Linked DNA regions of Homo sapiens: region 2 is linked to region 1. Evidence: fine-mapped expression QTL. Tissue or cell type: whole blood. Region 1 holds a variant in brackets; the other region holds the start of a gene. All regions are shown on one strand. Distances are from middle to middle.

Evidence for each region. PIP is the estimated chance that this variant, and not a neighbour inherited with it, causes the effect.
Region 2: it holds the start of SUCLG2, and the variant in region 1 is fine-mapped to the expression of SUCLG2 in whole blood (INTERVAL, PIP above 0.99).

What each region holds. Positions count from the first base shown.
Region 1 is chr3:67,448,413-67,451,099 of GRCh38, reverse strand. All of the region lies in intron 9 of SUCLG2 (succinate-CoA ligase GDP-forming subunit beta), which reads left to right. Among named protein-coding and RNA genes, the nearest start is that of SUCLG2, 200 kb to the left of the region's middle. The variant G/AG (reference allele first, on the strand shown) is at 1,546.
Region 2 is chr3:67,653,137-67,655,823 of GRCh38, reverse strand. It overlaps SUCLG2 (succinate-CoA ligase GDP-forming subunit beta), which reads left to right and starts at 1,212. Exons shown (of 11, transcript NM_003848.4): 1 at 1,212-1,321. The coding sequence starts at 1,238. It overlaps SUCLG2-DT (SUCLG2 divergent transcript), which reads right to left and starts at 1,127. Exons shown (of 7, transcript NR_109992.1): 1 at 722-1,127. RefSeq lists an enhancer at 906-1,405 and a silencer at 921-1,600.

The DNA.
Region 1 (2,687 bases):
TAAGACACTGCTATCACTTGGTCACCTATAAATTGGGAATAATAGGAAGGAAGACCTTCCTCATAGAACTGTTTTAAGGGTTTTATGAGATAAGCAAGTGAAATTCCTAGGACAAGGCCTAGCACAGAGTAAGCGCTCAATAAACGCTACCTGATGGACATACCATGAGGCCAAAGAAGTGAATTAGGGCCAGGTTGTGAATGGCATTTTATGGCAAGCAGAGTTAGTTTAGTTTTGCACTTATGTGTTAGGGACTAGAGATAAGGAAGAAAGATAGCCATGGGCCAGATACAGTAGCAAGCCTTCTGGGATGGGCCAAGGCCTGGGAAATGATGTTGTTATCTTTTACAATAGTCTTTCCAAAATTGTGGATTGGGACCTGGTGATTCTTGAGAGAACTCCCTCTAGGTAGTTAAATAACAATATTAAATTAAATAGCCTTGATTTCTCCATAGAGGAATGGATAGAAAGATGATGTCTGAAAAAGGAAATACAGCAAATGCCAGATGATAGTATCTAGATGATGGGCATATAGGTGTTCACTGTTCAATTTTTTTCAACTTCTCTGTATACTTGAAAATTTTCACAATACAGTATTGGGGAAAATTGAGAAAGTGTATTCCCTCTTTAGTTCTTTTTCAATTCCAGAAAATCTCAAGAAAGTCTCTTGGTGCCAATATGGCTTAAACACTTTGCTTTGGCTCAGAGCCACTGGCAGCCTGTATCTAGTTACAATTTAATAAAACTATTGTACATTTTCCCAGGTTTGGTAGCTTGAGCCTGTAATTTCAGCCACTCAGGAGGCTGAGGTGACAGGATCGCTTCAGCCCAGGTGTTCGAGATCAGCCTGGGAATCATAGCAAAACCTCATCTCAAAAAAATATTTAAAAGTTAGCCAGGTGTGGTGGCACGTGTCTGTTGTCCTAGCTACTGGGGAAGATAAGGCGAGAGGATTGCTTGAGCCCAGGAGTTCAAGGCTGCAGTAAGCTATGATTATGCCACTGCACTTCAGCCTGGGCAACAGAGCAAGACCCTGTCTCTAAATTAATTAGTTAATTTTAAAAAAAATACTGTTTTTTTGTATTTTATTATCTTCAATTTATAGGAATTAATATGTTATTTTTCGTATTGATAGTGATACTGTTCTCTTTTCAAATAATGTATTTAAGCTTTAAAATATTCAGCATGGCCGAGTGCAGTGTCTCATGCCTGTAATCCCATCACTTTTGGAGGCCATGCAGGTGGATCACTTGAGGCCAGGAGTTCAAGATCAGCCTGGCCAACATGGCAAAACCACATCTCTACTAAAAATACACAAATTAGCTGGGCATGGTGGCACACACCTGTAGTCCCAGCTACTCAGGGGGCTGAGCGTGAGGATTGCTTGAACCTGGGAGGTAGAAGCTCCAGTGAGCGAGGTCACGCCACTGCACCCCAGCCTGGGCAACAGAGTGAGACTATGACTCAAAAATAAAATAAAATAAAAATAAAATATTCAGCAAATAGCAAACAGATAGTGTGCACTGTTGTGGTAAAAAAAAAAAA[G/AG]GCAGAGGTATTATGTACATGTCTGATGACTGCTATAGGAAAAGGAGGATTATTGAAGAATTTGAAGTAAAGGACTGGACTAATTGTTTTGGAAGTTAAATTATTCACCCTCTGCTCTTTGTATGACTGCAGAATGAATATAGAGTTTTGGGCTTTTATAGTTCCTCTAGTCACTGTTAAACTTCAATATGTGACAGTGACTGCCTGTCTGCATGTTCAGATTTTCTTCACAAGCCTATGAAAGCAAAGATCCCAGATAAAGCTCATAGGCTTTCTAGTGCTTAAGATGTGGCACTCTTTACTTGCTTTTGGAAAACATTCACATATTTCCTAAAGGGGCAAGAGATATATATTCTTGAAATAAAATAGAGCCACTTAATCAGAGTGGTTTGCCAAAGGGGACTGCCTGTGGATTGGATTTTAATCTGTCTGTCACAGTCACCTTTTCTTTTTAGAATGTTCTTAATAGAATTTAGAAAACACCATAAAATACCTCACTTATATAAAGTAAATGTAAAATAATGTGTTTCTGTGAAAGCAAAAAAGCAAGAAATATTCAAATTCAACAGTGTTTTTATATTACTTCCATCTGTCTATTGTTACAATTCTGTGTTCATTACTATCTCAATGGAATTCAAAAGTTTTTTTTCACTACCAGAATCAACAGTAATAATGATAAGCAGTCAGAATAACTAGACTTTACCCACTAAAAGAAAAGAAAAAAAAACCTTTTTTACACTTGATTCAGAAATAGTGTTTTTTCATGCAGTTTAAACATTGTAAAAGTGTATTGTTTCCTAGTACCAGCTATATGTCCTTATGAACTTTCATATTTCTGATAAATTGTTAGAAGTAAAACTGCTAAAGCAACATATTAATATTTTAATTGTTATCTACTTTTTGAAACAAAAAGTAGCTGGTATCTCAGGTACTCCTGAGGTCGGGAATTTGAGACCAGCCTGGCCAACATGGCAAAACCCTGTCTCTACTAAAAATACAAAAATTAGCTGGGTATGGTGGCACATGTCTGTAATCCCAGCTACTCAGGAGGCTGAGGCATGAGAATCACTTGAACCCGGGAGCAGAGGTTGCAGTGAGCTGAGATTGCACCATTGCACTCCAGCCTGGGCTACAGAGTCAGA
Region 2 (2,687 bases), 200 kb before region 1:
ACGGAGTTGTTCATTCCTCCCAGTGGGTTCGCAGTCTCCCTGACCTCAGGAGTGAAACTGCAAACCTTTGTGGTGAGTGTTATAGCTCATAAGGATAGTGCGGACCCAAACAGTGAACAGCAGCAAGAGCTACTGCAAAAAGCAAAAGCACAAAGCAACCACAACCTGGAAGGAGACCCCAACTAGGGGCCACTACTGGCGCCGGTGTCCAGCTTTTATTCCCTTATTTGGCCCCACCCTCATCCTGCTGATTGGTCCATTTTACAGAGTGCCAATTGGTCCATTTTACAGAGTGCTGATTGGTCCCTTTTTAAAGAGTGCTGATTGGTGCATTTACAAACGTTTAGCTAGACACAGAGCGCTGATTGGTGCGTTTTTACAGAGTGCCGATTGGTGTGTTTACAAACCTTTAGCCAGACACAGAGCACTGATTGGTGCATTTACAATCCTTTAGCTAACAGAAAAGTTCTCCAAGTCCCCACCTGATTAGCTAGACACAGAGGGCTGGCTGGTGTATTTACAAACCTTTAGCTAGACACAGAGCGCTGATTGGTGCATTTACAATCATTTAGCTAGACAGAGAAGTTCTCCAAGTCCCCAACCGACCCACCCGGCTTCATCTCTCAGCTTTACATTGATTTTAGGTTAAGGATAGAACAAAACAAAACACCCACAACTCCTTAAGGGATGGAGAGCCTCCAATGGCCTCTCCTTGACTCACCTGAAGCCCTGGGCTGCAGGAACCTCACCTGTCTCTATTCGTTAAAGTCTCAGCTCAAACACCACTGTCCCAGATAGGCCTCGTGACCGCAGGACTAGACCACGGTTCTCTGCGGAGGGCGTCAGCTCCGTGAGCCACCCTTCCAGCACCCACTGCCATGGCGAATATTTGCTTGTTTGGCCATCCAGGGACTGTTTGAGCCCCAAGACCGCAGGGCTCGGGGTCTGTCTTTGCTCAGGACGATAACCTGGGGACTGGACAGTAGGCCCTCAGGCCTTGGGACCGCTCAAAGTGAACCGGGGCCGGGTGGGGGACCCAGGGCTCTGCAGCCTTAAGAACGCCTGTGCCCCCGGGACGCAGGGGTCAGGCCCGGCCCGGCCCAGACCGCCTCTGCCTCCTCCTCCTTTTCCTCCCCGCGCCCGCTTCTCCTCTGACCCCTCCTCCCGCTGCTCCTCCTCCGCCTCCTTCCCCTGCCCGCGCCCGCCCTACTGCCCCGTGCCGAGTTTCCTGTTTAAGATGGCGTCCCCCGTAGCAGCGCAGGCCGGGAAGCTTCTGCGAGCCCTAGCGCTGCGGCCCCGCTTCCTGGCGGCCGGGTCCCAGGTGAGCGTGGGGGCAGGAGCTGCGGGCGCCAGCAGCGGCGCCGGCCTGCCCGGGCTTCCCTCGCCCCCTGCTACTCTTGGTCTCCGCCTGACCCCCTGCGCGGCCCCTCGGGCGCCCCACTTCGGGAGGTGACGCGGCGCCGGGTCCAGGCGCAGCAGGGAACCCCGCTCCAGTGTGGGGCAGGGGCGGCGCGGCGGCAGCCCCGGGTGCCTCGGGGTATGAGCGACCCAACGCACTAGAGTCTCCGCTGTCTGCCCGCGCAGACTCATGGCGAAGGCGCTGAAGCAGGCGCTGGACGCAAGTTTAAGAAAAGTTTCTTGGACCGGGTTTTGGAGCCCTGAGGTTTTATTGTCAGCTCTACTAATTCTGCTTTTCAAACTTCTGGCACTAACCCTGAGCACGTTTAGACCACGTGATAAACATGCCTGGAAACCCGTTTCAGCCCAACTAGGAACTCACCCCCTAGGGTGAACTTCCTGCAGGCTACCTGCTTTTGCAGACTTTTAATGTGCCTGAGTTGGTCAAATCCGTGGGTCAAGGAGAAAAATGGGAAACGATCTTTCTCCTCTTTCCAATGAAAAATCAGGGCTGTCACTAAAACGCATTAGACCATTGACCCTGTCCATGTCCTCCTTGTTGATGGAGAATGAAATCAAAGAGGGTCAGTGGTGGGCTGGATAGCGATTGGAACTTGGCCTCTAGCAGATTTTTACCTTCTGCAGATGGCAAGCGTTAAAATAGTCAGAAGGACTTCAGGAAAGTTTTGAGTTGGTGATGACTCTTGTAGAAATCACTCAACCACTGAACTGGTTAGTCTCCGTAGACTATCTCTCTTCCCTTTTAAAGAAAGCACAGTCTGGGATTCAGCCACAGCAGAGTTAATGACCTTGCCTATTTCCCCATTTTTAATTGATGAGAGGCAAATTATCACTCATACAATTTTAACCAGGATGTGCATAGTATAGTTTTTTAGAAAATTTAAAAAATAGTGATTAATGATTTTTTGAGTTCCTCTAAACTTTGGTTATGACATCTGTGAGCTATTTTTACCCCTCTCCTTTCATTTCCTGCCTCCCCATTTCTCTGTTATTGTTAATGTAAATTTAAAAGGTGCTAATACTTACTACTGTAATATTCTTAATAGGTGCTTGACAGTATAGTGAGGTAGCAAAAGGAATGGCAGTTTTGTCTAATTAAAACTCACTAATAACTGTTGTAATAGAGTAAGGAGAATAGCTCTAGGAGATGAAGTCCTATTCATTATTTAAGTGTTAGAAAAAACAAGAACTAGGGTGCTTACCATGAGTGTAGACTTGAATTGATGAGAAACATGGGGCCCAGGGCAGTGAAAACTCATGAATTGTAC